Linked DNA regions of Homo sapiens: region 1 is linked to region 2. Evidence: fine-mapped expression QTL. A gene starts in region 2. The other region holds a variant in brackets. All regions are shown on one strand. Distances are from middle to middle. Region 1 holds the start of LOC124901017 (a long non-coding RNA gene). Region 2 holds the start of RASGRF2 (Ras protein specific guanine nucleotide releasing factor 2).

Region 1 (8,333 bases), 250 kb after region 2:
ATTTATAAAGTGGGACTCATAATAGCTACTTCATTAGGTTGTTGTGAAGAGTACATGATGTGAAATGTGTAAGGAGGTTAACACAATGCCTGAAAAGTCATTAGCACTCGTAGTAAAGTGAGTATTATTACTGTTAGAAGCACTGACAGTAGTTCCTGGAAAAAGTAGTTTCTGCCGTTAAGGCCATATGGCCCAAGTGAAACCAGGCTGGATCTTAGTCAACTCAACTTTCTTTAGGCTTCGTCACCTTTTCCACACAAAGACAGTGTGGACCAATCCCAGGACAGACACTGGTTGCTTGTGGCTCTGTTTTTGGACTACCCTAATTGAAAGAGGAATTTTCTATTCATACAGCTTGGATAATCCCATTTCCTTTTATTTGGTGTGTCATTATAAATGCACAATTATTAAACTGGTGATACTGCTGATAGACGTGGTAGTGATGGTGGTGGGGAACCCAGGATCCTGGAATGTTCATCAATGCCCAAGCATCGCCAGAAGACTAGAAGCAAATCTTTTCTCTATTGGAACTGAACCAGAAGTGCAGAGGCCTCCACATCTGAAGGGAAAGAATTCTGAACCATGCCCTCTAGAAAACACAGGCTATGACTGTGAGAGATAAAAAACATATCATATGGTGGTTAAGTGCAGCCCTGACATTTAGAGATTTATATGCATTCCTGACATCTAAGAGATATGAACATAAAACATGTTTTCATGCATAGGTTACATTAATGCAATAAAGCAAATGCTCTTTTGAATGAAGCCTCCCTGACTCACAGTCTCACAGGGGTCACAATTAAGTGTATGATGAATACACTTAATTGCCATATATAGTTTGTTGCCCTGTTTGTAAATAAAAACCTGTACTCAAAACTTATATTTCTAAAATACCATCTCTCCTCCTCCAAAGTTGTCTAACTAGCTGTCTTCAAAATCTATTCAGTGTAGAGTTTTTCTAGATACCCAACATGCCACAAAATAAAAAGAAATAGTGATTAACTTCTTGGATGTTCAACTGTGATGGGCTCAGGTCATAGAAAAGTCATCCTCAAACCCCACATAGCATCAACAGGAAGGCATAAAATGTTAGGTAACTTAATGGCACCAGAGTGCCTCTTGGAAAATGAGGGTAAGATCATTGAGAAGAGGAACATTTGATGGGAGCTAACTAACTTTTTGACTTTTTCTTTCCAAGGGAAAGATATTACCCAGCTTCATAAAAAGATCTTTCCCACTGGTACACATAATTATGGAGCCACAGATCTCTCTCCAGGAACCTAGAATGGTGGAAAAGATGATGTGCACTTTCGGAAAAGTCACTTTTATCTCCCATGTGTAACCCTTACATGTAATTTAATAGGCTTTGGAGAAAGAGTTAGCTTTAACTTATTTTTTCCTCATCTTAATCTGCCCTTTAAGATAAAATGACTATTTCTTTCTACTCACAAATAATATGGCTAAGTGCCGATAAGAGGGCTGCTACTAGTATAATCTAGAAGGCTCCTGCTCCCCCTTCAGACAGCCGAGGGAAGGGAGTTGTGTTTATTGACTGTGTGCTGTGTGTGGGACCCTTGAAGAGGTGCCTTCCCTGAGCCTGCTTAAGAGAAGCGCAGAGTAAAGGAAGGGCCCACAACCCTGAGCAACTTAGTCAGTGTCTTTGAGCTTTTGTTTCCTTATCTGTAAAACGGAGATCACAATGCCTGCATTATCTGCTGTCCTGTATAACAATCCCTTGGAAGGGATCTGTTAGGATACAGGAGATAGTGCATGTCAAATGTTTAGCACATGCCTGGCATAGAGCGGGCATACAGGAAGCCATCTCTGTTGATATTATGTTTTTGAGGGTTGTGGCTGTTGTTTTAATCAACTCAGAACACAACAGAACATCACATCATCATTACTTCTTTTAAAAGTAGCTTCCTCTTACTCTAGTTTCTCTTCATATCGCATAAATCTTTCGCCTTTTACTAAAAGTAGCTTCCTCCAGCAGAGTACATGGTTTGGGACCGTTTAACTATTTTATTTTGTTTTATTTTATTTATTTATTTTTGAGACTTGAGTCTTGCTCTGTCGCCCAGGCTGGAGTGCAGTGGCGCTATCTCGGCTCACTGCAAGCTCTGCCTCCTTGGTTCACGCCATTCTCCTGCCTCAGCCTCCCGAGTAGCTGGGACTACAAGTGCCCGCCACCTGCCCAGCTAATTTTTTGTATTTTTAGTAGAGGCAGGGTTTCACCGTGTTAGCCAGGATGGTCTCGATCTCCTGACCTCATGATCTGCCCTCCTACTATTTTAATGCTTTGAGTATGTGCTTGTGCCTTCCTTTTGGAAAACATAAAATGCCTGGCTCCAATGGCAAATTATGTAATTGGATGCCTACTGGACTCCAGTTTTCCTGGACTCTGAACGTCTGTTGCACAAAAATACCCTCTACTCTGAAACCAGTATTTAAGGTATTAACTTGTGTTTATTCATTCACTCATTCATTCATTCATCATTTATTTTTTTAAAAGATATTTATTGAGAGCTGAATAACATGTATGAGATTCAGGGCCAAAAGTGTCTGAGGAAAGTCCATCTGGAATGCAAGGGGGAAGAAGCTATCTGCTGGCTCCTGCCTGGCATTGTTCAGAGTCTTGCCACATAGGAACCCCCTGTGCTTCTGGTCTACGTAAGCTTGAGAAAGGGGTGGCCCTGCGTCTCCTGCCTCTGTGAGGGCAGGGAAAGCCCACGGTAGGGGATAGAGGTGTGGGGAGGAGGGCACTCAGGCCTAGGAGTCCAACTGGCTGATAGCATTAGAGGATGCTCCATTTTACATTATGGATGGTAACTCAGAGCTCACCCAGCTCACCCTCAGACTCACTGTGACGGTGGTTGTTTCATTTACAACCTTGTATGTAACAGGTTGCCTTTTTGTTCTAAATCAGCTGTCCTGATGATTCTCTCATGCCTTGAGCATGTTTTCTGTTTGGGGATTGCTCATCTCCAGCTCAGCAGTTGGTTGTGCTGCATGGCCTTGTAGACCCAAATCCTCAGACCTCCCATCCAGGGAAAACCAAACTGCATTTGTAGTTTTGTTCCTAGGTTGTCTATTTTTTCTTTCATGGAGGATAATTTGATATCTTTTTCAGGGCCCTTTCACAAGATGACCAAGATGACATCCACCTAAAATTAGAGGATATAATTCAAATGGTAAGTCTGACCACATTTTTATCTAGCACAACTATGTGCAAACTACCTCTCCAAGGCGAGCAATATGCTTGTAACCGATCAAGGAGTGTTGTAGTATTAGGCCCTCTGTCCTATCTGTGAAGCTCTGTGAGATGAACCACATTTGGTGTGGGGTCTAGCAGTTGGTCTAAGATATTCATGTTGGCTTTGATACTTTTAGCTTTCTGCCATTTTTTTCATAGTTAGAATTTAGTGGTGAACTTCATGCTTCCACACATGCAGCTGTCTGCCTCACTGACCTGCAATGAGATGGCAGGCGCCCTCTCCTGGGTGTTTCATTTCCCTCCCTCATCTCTTGCAGACTGACTGCATGAAGGCCGAATGCTTTGAGTCCTTGTCGGCCATGGAGCTGGCAGAACAGATCACCCTCCTGGACCATGTCATTTTCAGAAGCATTCCCTACGAGTGAGTGCCACCCCCCACAGCAGCAGGGCTCGGCTGCTCTAGCTGTCTTAGAAGTTGACATTATTCCTAAGGCAGGTTGTGTGTATGTCTGTCCCCTCAGTTCCTGTGTGAGTATCTACCAGTTGTTTCCATCCATGGAACTGGCACGCCTCTGTGTCCAGCACTCTGCAGGATGGGAGCAGGACCAACAACAGCAAGGGACAAAGAACCCTGCCCAGGGACTTAGTCAACCTGAGTATCAGAGTAATTTCGAGTGTTTTTAATGACTATACAAAATAATTCCTGTATGCTGCATCTCACTTGTCCCTTGTTTCTTGCTGTGTCTGGTGACCTGCTCAGGAATGAAGTGAATGATCAGGAATGCTGCCCTGAAGACAGCCCATCTGACCAGGTGGAGC[T/C]TCTGCCCCGCTGAACTGCCTGGTCAGGGCAACATGCGGTACAAGCCTAAAAGGAGCGCTTTTCAGCCCTGACCACCTGCGCCCTCCTGAGCGCTGGGGAGAACAAAACGCAATCCCTGCCTTTGAAATCTGCATCCTCCAGGAGAATGGCAGGCAGCGCAGAGTGGAGGGAGAAAATTCTGCTTCTGACTAACATTTTTGGTAGTGATGAAATTTTTGGACCCTCTGCTAAGGCTTAATGTTTTTAAAAGCTAATCCTGGGAAAATAGTCTTGATTTCTAAGGTAGTACTTAACCTCTTTATTTCCCTTGTGTTGGTTCTTGTTTTCCAACTTCAGAGAAGGCTTTATAGGATCCTAATAGGGACACAGTTCCAAACATTTATAAGAGAAAGCTGGAAGCTGAAGAATCTTCCTTTTTGGCATTGAGAGGTAAACTGCAACAGCCGAGGTAAAATTCACTTGTGAGGCTGGCAGCAGCAGGTGTCAGGAACCATTCTAGGCCATGTCAAATGGAATTTTTCTAATATTCGTGACAACTGTCCAGGATCATAGCCACCATATTTTTAAAAACTTAATTGGTTTTGTGTTTTGTTTTGAACTTCCAGGGAGTTTCTTGGGCAGGGGTGGATGAAGCTGGATAAAAACGAAAGAACTCCTTACATTATGAAAACCAGCCAACACTTCAATGACGTGAGTAACCGTAACAGTAAAACCGTGGGCGTGTCACAAGAAGATGGATATTGGGGTCTAAAGACTCCTCTAAAACAAAGCAACTCTGTCACCCACTTTTTTTTTTTTTTTTTTTTTTTTTTTTTTTTTTTGAGACAGAGTCTCGCTCTGTCGCCCAGGCTGGAGTGCAATGGCGTGATCTCAGCTCACTGCAACCTCCACCTCCCTGGTTCAAGCAATTCCCCTGCCTCAGCCTCCCGAGTAGCTGGGATTACAGGTGCATGCCATCATGCCTGGCTAATATTTTTGTATTTTTAGTAAAGGGGTTTCACCATGTCGGCCAGACTGGTCTCGAACTCCTGACCTCAGGCAATCTGCCTGCCTCAGCCTCCCAAAGTGTTGGGATTACAGGCGTGAGCCACCGCACCTGGCCTGCCACCCACTTTTAAACAGAATTGATGGGATATTGACGACAAGCTTAAATCTCTAAGAGCTCACAGTAATGTAATAATGTCCAATTAACTTCCTGACATAAAAGGTTCACCTTTGATGGTACCCAGTGCTCAATAATGTACAGGTTGCTGATCCTATTTTTATCATGATTATCACTACTTCCTGTTCATATATTGACTAACAGAGTGAGCAGTACATGTGTCACTGGCCCCTGGTGGTGTTGGTCACGGTAAGGCTGGGTTGGTGCAAGTCCTCATCATTACTGAACGTTCAGCCTGAATTACATTCCAGGGTTGGAAGGGGCCTCTTGGAGCATAATCACATTGTTGCTATAGTTCTGTGCAGCAGTGGCCAGCTGTCAGTCCATCTTACAGCTCTGCTTTTCCCCAGCGGTAAGATTGGGAGATGCTTTTATACCTCCCCGCTCTTCCTTAGTGCTGTTCTCATAGTCTTAGTCCTGTGGTAGAACAAGTAACAGGTGTGGGAGTGTCTTCTGGCCTATCCAGGCAACGGGAAGCCTCCCCTTCCAGTTTCACTAAACTATAGTAAAAGGAATAACGATTTTAAAAACAACAACAACAAACTACCAGGAACCCCATAGGTAAATTAATAAGTGATCTAGAATCAAAATGCAAAAATGACAGTTTAGATTCCCAAGACAGTGTTTCATGCAGGCTTTCCCCAAAGCACGTGGATGCTGTGTGAATGCTACCACACAATGAGCTTCAGTGCCGCTGCTGCCTAAAGGACAAGGGCATGGCCCATCTAGTGCCTGCCCTGAGAAACAGATTCCCTGCTGTGGGAAGCAAACCTCTGTTACCTGTGGTGAACCAACACAGGGGATATAATGGACACTCAAAGAGAGGTTCGATCCCAGGCTCCAGACCCACATGTCTCCTCTGCTGGGACGACTGCTACATTGCATTCTTGACAATTACAGATGGAACCTTTCATCTGCACCCCAGAGCCGCCAAGCCTGCTTCTTCATTGTCCTCTCTGTTCTCAGTCTTGGGTAGTGGCCTCACCATACACTCACTCACCCAAGCACAGGATCTAGACGTCATCTTCTCCCTTACCAGCTCACCCTTACCACTGCCCAACATATTTGCAAACTCTAAATCTACATATATCTCAGGCTCTTCCCCACCCTGCCTTCCCCGCTGCCACCACCTTGATGTGGCCTTTTACCTTGTCTCTCCAGGAGCTCCTGACTCATCTCTCCCCTGCAACCTCACTGCCCTCCAATCCATCTGTTAGGTTCAGAGTCAGGTTCCAGCCCATGCTGAGGTCTGAGGGGAGTGGGTGGATGCCTGAAAGAACACGTAGGGGGCCGTAGGTAGGTGAAAGATGATTTTGTTCAGCGGGCGCTCTCATCAGCAGCTGTCTCATTAGCAGCTCTTTCATCAGCAGCTCTCTTACGCTGTCTCTTCTGTCTCAGCTGCTTGAGCCAGTCGCTCCCGCGCACAGCTGTGTGGCCAGCTCTCACTTGCCTTCAGGGTCAGCAGCTTAACTCTTTCTCTGGGCATGAGCTCCTGTACAGTGTCAACAGGGCAATTATACCTTTTACAGACAATAGTGGCTTAGAGCCAAGTGATGGCCTTCCGTGTTATGGCTACATGGCTGTGATCACAAGTGGAGTTATACACCTGTGCTCTAAACTCACTGAGTCCCTCTGGCCCGGATGTCCACCTTGGCCTATCCTAGACCAAAGCACAGCCATGTACCTTAAACCATCCTGCATGCAGTGGCACAGGAATGACTTCTCTGAAAGGTCAATCTAATTATCTACCTCCCTTTGACAAAAATCTGTCAGTGGCTTCCCCTTACCTTAGGGATATGGTCCCAACCTGTCATACAAGAGCACAGCCCATCTGTCACCCTTGCCTCTCCCAGTCCTTGTGCCCCTCAGATGGCTGCCAGGTCCTCCATTACACCATCCCTCCCACCTCTGTCCCCTTGCTCTCATACTTAGATCCTTTAAGACTCAATGCAAGGCTGGAGACTGTAGCTCACACCTGTAATCCCAGCACTTTGGGAGGCCGAGCTGGGAGGATTGCTTTAGCCCAGGAGTTCAAGACCAGCCTGGGCAACATAGTGAGACCCTGTCTTTATAAATACAAAAAATTAGCCAGGCATGGTAGTGCACACCTGTGGTCCCAGCTACTTGGGAGGCTGAGGTGAGAGGATCGCTTGAGCCCTGGACATCGAGGCTCCGGTGAGCTGTAATCATGCCACTGTATTCCACCTGGGGCAATAGAGCAAGATCCTGTCTCCAGAAAAAAAAAAAAAAAAGACTCAGTGCAGGCGTGACCTCTTCCTAGAAGCCTCCTCTGTACTAGACCAGATGCCCCATGCTGCCTGTGTATTCCCAAACCCCACCGTGAATAGACTCAACTTTGTGTTTCGCTGCATGGCATTTACCTGTTTATGTATCTGCGACCCTCCCCTTCCCACCTACCTAGGCTCAGATTGCCTTAAGGTCAGGGATGGATTTATTTGTCTTTCTGTTCCCAGCACCTAAAAGAATCTATTCTATCCCATTTCCTCAATAGTTATTGGCAAGAACTTCTTCATCGAAATTACTGATTAACAAAACCACTTCTTCCCAGGACAAACTGGATTCCAAATAATTCCTCTCCTCACGCTAAGGATGCGCAGGCACTCAGTGAACAGCACTGCAGTAGGTGCTTTAGCGAATTTCCACAGTGATGGTGTTGAGGCACTATGAGATCTTAAGTGTCTTCAGAATCATCAAAGAATGGGTGAATCCATCAGACTTGGTGTATGGATATAAGATTACACGCCCTATATTCCCTTTGTTAATACGGTAATCTCATTTCACTTTTTTTTTCCTCTCCATATTACAAGAGCTGAGCTTCTTAAACTGGCTTTAAGTAATAAAATTACGGTACTTAGCCTCAAAACTATAGGTCCTTTTAACTGCTGGTGAAGAATAAGATGAAGAAAATGTTCTTTTCCTTGCAGCCAAGTGATTCTGGTTTGAGAGTTAATCAGCTCAGAATTTGATCTAACTGGGGGCAAGTGTTTTTTTCTTTCTCTGTGATAACTGTGGCTTCTCAGAGTGAGTAATCACACACTGTTGGGGGCCAAGGAGTAAAGGGAAAGGCCCCAGGGAGTGACATCCATGATCTACAGACATTGCCTTTCCGCAGGCGT
Region 2 (8,333 bases):
AGGAATTCTTTTTGGTCAAAATAATACTGGAAACAAGGAAGGAATAATCCTTTTGGGTTTTACCTACTTGGGGAAGAACCTGGCTTTACTAATTAAGTATCAAGAGATGATACAGAATCACATATGTGCCAGAACTGGTAGCACTCTATCCTGTAGAAACAGTCTGGGATTCTTGGTGAGTCTGCATTATTAAATATATTATTCTCCACATCTACAAGCCATCAAAATGACAATTCCCCAAGTGATCTTCTGTCAGGCTAAGAAAAGGATCTTGGCAATACTGTGGCTTTGTTACAGGAAAGCGGTCCCAATCCAGACCCCAAGAAAGGATTCTTGGATCTCTCACAAGAAAGAATTCAGGGCGAGTCCGAAGTGCAAAGTGAAAGCAAGTTTAAGAAAATAAAGGAATAAAAGAATGGCTACTCCATAGACGGAGCAGTCCCGAGGGCTGCTAGTTGCCCATTTTTATGGTTATTTTTTGATGACACGCTAAACAAGGGGTGGATTATTTATGCCTCCCCTTTTTAGACCACACTGGGTAACTTCCTGACATTGCCATGGCATTTGTAAACTGTCATGGTGCTGGTGGGAGCGTAGCAGTGAGGACGACCAAAGTCACTCTCGTTGCCATTTTGGTTTTGGTGGCTCCTTTACTGCAAGCTGTTTTACCAGCAAGGTCTTTGTGACCTGTATTTTGTGCTGACCTCCTATCTCATCCCGTGACTTAGAATGCCTTAACCGTCTGGGAATGCAGCCCAGTAGGTTTCAGCCTCATTTTACCCGGCTCCTATTTAAGATGGAGTTGCTTTGGTTCAAATGCCTCTGACAGCTTTGCTTGACATAATCTTCCTCCAAGAACCCAGTGCGGATGCATTTCTGAATTATAGAAACCACAGGGAAAAGTCCTTGCAGAAACTCATGCAGCCCATGTACATTTTACTAACAAAACAGAGTTTAGGAGAAAGAAAAAAAAAATTAAAACCTACCTTGTGCATCTGAATACTAAGGCATGAGTTAGGGATTTTGAAAAGCTGTAGGTTAGGTTGTGCACTCCCCACTCCCCTAAACTTCAAAGCTTTAGACAATTCAGATAAAATTTCCCCTCCCACCTTTCCTTCCTCCCTCCTTCCGTCCTTTCTTTCCTCTTTCCCTCCTTCCCTCCCTTCCTTCCTTTTCTCATCAAATTATCTGAATAATGTCTCCCTCTCTATTTAGTAGAGTTTCCAGGTATGACAGCTCATTGCTATTTTTCCCCTCTTAACTTATCTAGAAAAGGGGAAAGAGGCCACTTGCACTGTGATCATATGCTTTGTTGCCCATAAAAAATTTTTTTAAACTGGCCCGCTCAAGAAAGAATCCACGCAATGCAAGAAGGAAAAACAATGAATTCAGAGAAGCTTGTTCCCATCCACTTGGAACGCAGTCTCTTTTTGGCAATCTATTTGATCAGCTGGGGGAAAGCATTCTTATTTACATAAACTCCTGATCCTTTGTGTTTCAGGATGGCACCATTCCAGGGATGTGGTTTCCATATGAATGGAGACTAAAGGCCCCCAGGTGCCCATCAGACACCTAATAGAGATAGCTTCTCTAGGCTGTCCAGGAATGTCTGGTTGTTTTCATCTCTTACAATCTTGCAGAATGATCTAATATTTGCAAATGCTTATGCCCTCTTTAACAATTCAATGACCAAATAAGAAATTAATTTAGAAAATAATTGTCTGAAAAACTTGTATGCCTACTGCATATAAACTCTCCTACTGGGTGCTACAGGGATTACAGAGATAGCTCGGCACTTGAGAAACAGACAGGTGAGAAGAAGCACCTAAACATTAATCTTCTTCCTGGCTGGGTGGTGTCGTACTTACAATCCCAGGACTTTGGGAGGCCAAGGCAGGAGGGTTACTTGAGACCAGGAGTTTGAGACCAGCCTGGGTAACATGGTGAGACCTCTGTCTCTACAAAAAGTAAACAAAACCTAACCAGGTGTGGTAGTGCACACCCATAGTCTTAGCTACGCTGGAGGCTGAGGCAGGAGGATTGCTGGAGCCCAGGAGTTTGAGGCTGCAGTGAGCTATGACTTCAGCCTGGGCAACAGAGGAAGAACCTCTCTCTAAAGAAAAAAAGAAAGAAAGAGAGAGAGAAAGAGACAGAGAGAGAGAGAGAGAGAGAGAGAGAGAGAGAGAGGGAGGGAGGAAGGGAAAGAAAAGAAGAAAGAAAGAAATTCTCTTCCTCTTACACTGAGCACACCAGGAACACAGGCAATGCTTTTTCTCTATATGCTCTACATCACCTAAATATAGTGTTGAGGACATAAACTAGTGATCAATAAATGGTTCTTGCAGTGAATTTCCATAATCAAAACCCACGGTAATCACCAGCCAAATTTTGCAGGAAACAAGCACTCCTTTCTCTCATTGTCCAGGGGCAGAGCAGATGGGGTGGCATATAAGGGCCACATAACCTTCCGTGGTAGGAAGTGATGTCAGACAAGAGGTTGTGAATATTTCATGTGGTTCAAATGAAAAGCACATTTAAGGAGACAGAGATGGTAACTGAGACATTGCTTATTGAAGAAGAGAATCTTTCACATCTGAAAAAACTCAAGTGCGTTAGAAGGTTTGACTACTCATGGCAAAATAGTTTTTGTGCTGATTTCACACTCTTACTGGTTTCTACTAAAAAAATGGAGCTTATCAACCACACAGGTGTCTACTCACTTACGGTTCTCACAGCTGGGATTGGACCACAGAGAAAGAAATAAAAGGCCTCCTGAGGCAATCACCAGCTCCTCTGCATCTAGAATCTGGCTCCAAAATGTTGCCTGCATTTACTTACTGTCTCTGTACTTGTGTCTTCTCTGAAGAACAATGCAAACTTCCAGCTGGGTTAAACCCAATTTAGCACAGCACTGTCCTTTAGATATTTTTAAAAACGTAAAGAGAAATGACCACTGTTCTCACGCTGTAATTTCAAAATGGCAATTTCCCTACTATATACTTGTTAAAAGTGAAAATTTTTTAAAAAGGTAAAAGGAAAAAAAAACCCCACTCAGCTGCTCAGTGAGGCAGAGTTAAAATATTCTGCAGAAACAGCACTTATGAAACAGGCAGAACCCCTGGGGCTACCAATTCATGAACACACAACTGGCAGTACAAGACAGGTGTATTGTCGTAGACTCATCACCCAGAAAAGCATTATTATTTACTTTTAACAATAAACATTTTATGATGGCACTCCGTTTTAGTGATAAATGACTGGGGAAAATAAAAAATGTGTATAGCAGAATCAAATATAGGCCCTCCCCGGGGGTTTCACTGGCTTTCTCTCACAGCTGCTGGCTACATTATTTCTTTTCCACTTACATTTTTACAGCATGGGGTTGGGGCGGGGGGGTGGCTCTTGGTTTTCTGGTTGTACCTGTCAGATTTGTTAATCAAATGAATCCAGTCCTACAAACGATGAGCCTGTGACAGCTGGCCTTTGGGGTTGGATTCTGCCCTGGGCAGCAAAGTGTCCCTTATTTGGGTATTTTTTTCCAGGTTGAAAACTCGGCACTTAAAATTTAGCATCTTACCACTGTGAAATAACAGGCATTCCGAAAGAACTTCGGCATCTGATGCCTTTCCGGGAACACTTGGGCCACTCTCCTTAACCTTTACCGGCAGTTTTAAATACTACAATGCAGGTACAAGCAGAAAAGCCAAGGATGCGGGCTATGCAAAGCCACTCTGTGACTCTACCTACTGCCATGGGAACGTACTTATGGATGTGGCATGTGAGTGTGTGTGTATGTGTGAGTGGGTTTGTGAAAGTGTGTGGATTCGTGCGAATACGTGTGTGAGTGCTTTGTGTGTATTTTTGGATGAATTTGTGAATGTACATGTGTGTTCATCTGTGTGTGTGTTTGATTATCTGCTTATGAGTCTGTATGATTGTGAACGTGTGAGTATATGTGTGCTGTTTGTGTGACTGTATGAGTGTAATGTGTGTATGAATGTATGTTTGAATGTGGGTTTGAGTGAATGTGTGGGTTGTGTGTGAATGTGTGTGTAAGTGAGCATATCACTGCGTGCATGTGTGTAGCTCCTTAAGTGTGTATCTGAATGTGGGTTTTATTTTTGTGCGCGGGAACGCACATTGTGGGTGTATTTGTCTATATGCATTTGTGCGTTGTGACTGTGTGTTGAGTGTGAGCGTTGTGAGAATGTGTATTTGTGTGTCATGAGTGTGTGCGCGTGTGTTTTTGTGCATATGTGCGCGCATTGTGTTTGTGTGCATTTGTGAGTGTATTTTTGTGCGTCTGAGTGTGTGCATTGTGGATCTGGGTGAATGTACTGGTCTGCGTGTGTGTGGGTGTGCGTGTGTGTGTGCGCGCGTTGTGCGCGAGTGTGCGAGCGCGTGTGAGCGGGTGTGTGGTGCGGCCGGGCGCCTCCACCTCCCTGATCCGCCCCATCCCGGCGGGCGCCCGAGCAGAGGCAGCGGCCCGGGCCGGGGCGGGCGAGGGAGGGACGCGAGCCGGGGCAAGCGGGCTGCGCCACCGCCGGCGCCGCGCCGACTTTGCCCTTTAAATCGGTCTCCAAGCCGATTACAGCTGAGCTCCCACGTGACGTTTTACCTTCTGTCTCCCGGAGCGCGTTGCCCGAGGACAGTCCTTCCCCGGCTGCCGCCCCAGCCCGCCGCGGGGGCTCGGCTCCCGCAACTTTGGGCGAAGCGGCGGCCGGCTCGGGCGCCCTCGCGGGGCCGCGCTCCACGCGGGCGTTGGGGGCTTGGGGGGCTCCGGGGGCTCGGCCGGGAGGGTGGTGGTTAGGGCGGAGAGCGTGCCTCGGCCCCAGCCCGCGCCCCTGCCACCGCGCGCCGCGGCCTCCCGAAAGCGGGCGGGGTGCCCTGCGCGCGGCGTGGGGAAAGGGGGCGCCCTTCGCCGGCCGGGACCTGAGCGGTCGCGCCCTCGAGGGAGCCAGCTGGGCCATGGCCGCGAGGCAGGGGTGAGACCGGCGGCCACCCGTGAGCCCTCCGCACCCGCACCATGCAGAAGAGCGTGCGCTACAACGAGGGGCACGCCCTGTACCTGGCCTTTCTGGCGCGCAAGGAGGGCACCAAGCGCGGCTTCCTGAGTAAGAAGACGGCCGAGGCGAGCCGCTGGCACGAGAAGTGGTTCGCCCTCTACCAGAATGTGCTCTTCTACTTCGAGGGCGAGCAGAGCTGCCGCCCGGCGGGCATGTACCTCCTGGAGGGCTGCAGCTGCGAACGAACGCCCGCGCCACCCAGGGCCGGCGCCGGGCAGGGAGGCGTCCGAGACGCGCTGGACAAGCAGGTACCGCGCGCCTTCTCTCCGCGGTCTCCCAGCCTTGATCGCCGCACTCCCTTGCCGTCCTAATCCGGGGATCAGGGGTCGGGGGTCGTGAAAGAGTGCGGGGACTATGCTCCGAAATCCCCCCGCGTCACCAGTGGCGGGACATCTCCACGCTCCTTCCGATCTTCATCCAGGGATTCTCCCATCTCCATACCCCTCCACCCCACTGCCAAGTGATCAGTCAGAATAGTGGCCCGACTTGCTTTCATTACCCTGGTAGAGGTCGAGTCGTTTCAGCTTCTCTGCCAACCATCTATTGCTTCTCTAGACCTGGCTCGCCAGATTTTTGTCTGGTGACATGTATTGACACCTGTTGGGTGTAGATTGGCAAGACGGAACTAACTTATTTGGAAAAGTTTGATTTCTGCCATACCCGGCTGGCGCGTGTAGATTTCTTTGCCTGCAGATGTTTGACCACTGGTTGGGCTGGGAACAAGCGGGGCTCCCAAGCCGGACAGACACTTTCTGTTGGTCATTTTCAATCAGTCTTTGTGATTTCGGTCAGTTGGCCTTGCTAACATTTGACCTGCTGGGTGTAATTATGAAGGTAAATGTGTATTCATATTCCTCAGGATTAATATTTGGTAGCCACATTCTTGCTATGTTTAAAAATGTGGGCATTTTTAAAGAACGCTTCTGTACTTTTAAATGAATGCTTTGAAAATGAATGCGACCTTTTAATTCTGGGTCATAATTTTATTAGTTTTGCTGTGTGCTCATGGTCGCGGGGTGGGGGAGAAAAACCCTTTAAGTCTTAGTGATCCCAGCCCCTCATTCCTGCAAACACAAAGTTTGTATGTTTCCAATCACCGTTTGGTTATTAAAGTTAAAGCAGACTAATTTTATGCCCCTAATGTTCTCATTTAGCTTCTCAATCCCCACCTTGATATGAAAAAGGCTGATTGTTTTTGCTGTTGCGTAAAAATATTCGCAGCTGAATTTTCCATGTGAGTTCAGATCAGACAGCATCTACCGCACACCACAGAGGCTGTGGGAGGTGCTAGCAATGGAGTGATCCGTAAGATGCCTACCTAACCCTTTGGGGCTCATAAAACAATGTGTAAAATTAAGAGGAGTTAAAACTAGACCGACCGGAAGTTTGAGTTGTTTTCACTATAAATCATTAACAGACTTAAGTGATTAAACTTGTTATAACACTTATAAATCTGAAAGTTTAAATATGCTCTTTAGTTTCTGAGGGCTTGTTCAGAGTCATTTGAAAAACTGATTTCCAACTTTATAGATATAGATACTAGAAATATAAACATAAATTTCAAGTCATGCATTTTAGAATTTAAATTGGGAGAAGAGTTTTGAGGAAACATTTTTTTTCAGGAATATATATAAGTAACATTCTATTGGTGGGATTTTTTTTAAGGTATGTGTTCCAAGGCCCCGCAGGAACCAAAATGAATAGGTTTCTAAATGTTATTATGTCTAAAGTAGAATAGGGTATTTTAAATTACTCAGGATATATATCATTTACTTAATCTCAAATTATTTGTTTTCTTCATATTTATATTAATATAAGATAACCACTTTTGATTTTTTTTTTTTCAGTTAGGGGTGGGGAGTTGTTACCTGTTACAATTCATATGGCTCTCTGACTTGCTAATGTTATATGGAAACCAACATTTTTCTACTTGGAAAATATCTGGACTGTAATCTTCAAGACTGTTTTCTTTCTTGCACTTTAATAAGGAAACATAACTTCCAAATAGTTTGACTTTCATGCCACTTTCTAATGGTTGTCCTAAATAGGCCATCTAATGAAAAAATTGTTTTCCCTTTTTATGACCATGCAAATGATGAGTATTTCTCAGTCATTTTATTCATCTTCAAGAGGTTAGAAATTAGAATCTTTGGTGTTTGTAGATAAATCTGAGATGTAGAGAAGCAAGCATTCCAGAATGGATTAGGAGTTGGGCTGGGAAACCTTCCACATTTTGTCTTGCATTAGATGTGCTGCTGTGAGTTGGGTTAGCTTAGCCCACTGATGCTTTTCTCTGGCACTGCCAACTGGGTGTGTTTGAATAATTAAGAAGAAACTGTGAAAATAAGAAACAAGGAGAAACATTCTACCTTAAATCTACAGTTTATCCAGTTGGTTACCTCTCAGCTAATTTATGTTGCTGAGGTGCTTAGATCATCCAGACACTGAGACACGAAGGATCTGTGGAGGATGTGAGGAGATGAGCACATCCCAAGGTTTGCTTCTTTCTCCTTATATGCTTCTGGAGCTTTCCATATCAATATCTCCCTCAACACTATCAACACAGTTGAAGGTTAGGGCTTGAAACAGGACTTAGTGAGGCAGAGTCATTTTTCTTCACCAAGTTTCCGTGTTATTTCTTTAAGCACATCTCTTAATCTTTTCTCTTTTTTTCTGTTAATGAAATCTCTGTTTCCTAATATGTAAAAATTAAGAATTTGGCTAAGTTGGTTTCCAATTACCTTTCAATAATGGCATCTTCTATTTCTAAGGTTATGACAGACAGGGTGAGCTTTTTGCAGTGTGGAGAATGTGAAAGACCATTTCACAAGATTCAGAGATTACCAGTGTTTGTAATAAATACTGCATCTGAAAAGCCGAGGACAAGCAGGTGATTGAAGTGGACATTCTGATAAATTAGTTAGGTCAGCAGATGTGCAAACCTATAGTAACATCATTGCCTGAGGCAGAGACATTCTTATTACTCACATTGGAGGGCGACATATTTATTGTAATCCCCTTGACAGTTACAATAGTTGATGTAATTATTGCTATAAACTGCCTCTAAGCATTCTTGGGAGCTTAAAGTCCACATATCCTTCAATGATTTTTATGCTTATTAGTTGTGTTTTTAGGTAAGTTACAAGAAGAAAACACCCATTGGTTTGCTTCCTGTAAATAACAATTCAAAATAAGTTGGTTGACAACAACAAAAAAATCCGTTTTTTTTTTTTTTTTACACTTGGACTTAAATTGTTTCCAGTTAAG

What was found. PIP is the estimated chance that this variant, and not a neighbour inherited with it, causes the effect.
Region 1: its variant is fine-mapped to the expression of RASGRF2 in whole blood (TOPMed, PIP 0.96).

The regions. Positions count from the first base shown.
Region 1 is chr5:81,203,715-81,212,047 of GRCh38, forward strand. RASGRF2 (Ras protein specific guanine nucleotide releasing factor 2) reads left to right here. Exons shown (of 27, transcript NM_006909.3): 20 at 3,131-3,191; 21 at 3,532-3,635; 22 at 4,640-4,724. It overlaps LOC124901017 (a long non-coding RNA gene), which reads right to left and starts at 7,224. Exons shown (of 2, transcript XR_007058842.1): 1 at 6,345-7,224; 2 at 2,497-5,696. The variant T/C (reference allele first, on the strand shown) is at 4,034.
Region 2 is chr5:80,955,713-80,964,045 of GRCh38, forward strand. RASGRF2 (Ras protein specific guanine nucleotide releasing factor 2) reads left to right here and starts at 4,651. Exons shown (of 27, transcript NM_006909.3): 1 at 4,651-5,314. The coding sequence starts at 5,027. RASGRF2-AS1 (RASGRF2 antisense RNA 1) reads right to left here and starts at 5,195. Exons shown (of 4, transcript NR_105015.1): 1 at 5,069-5,195. RefSeq lists enhancers at 1,143-1,663, 4,754-5,475.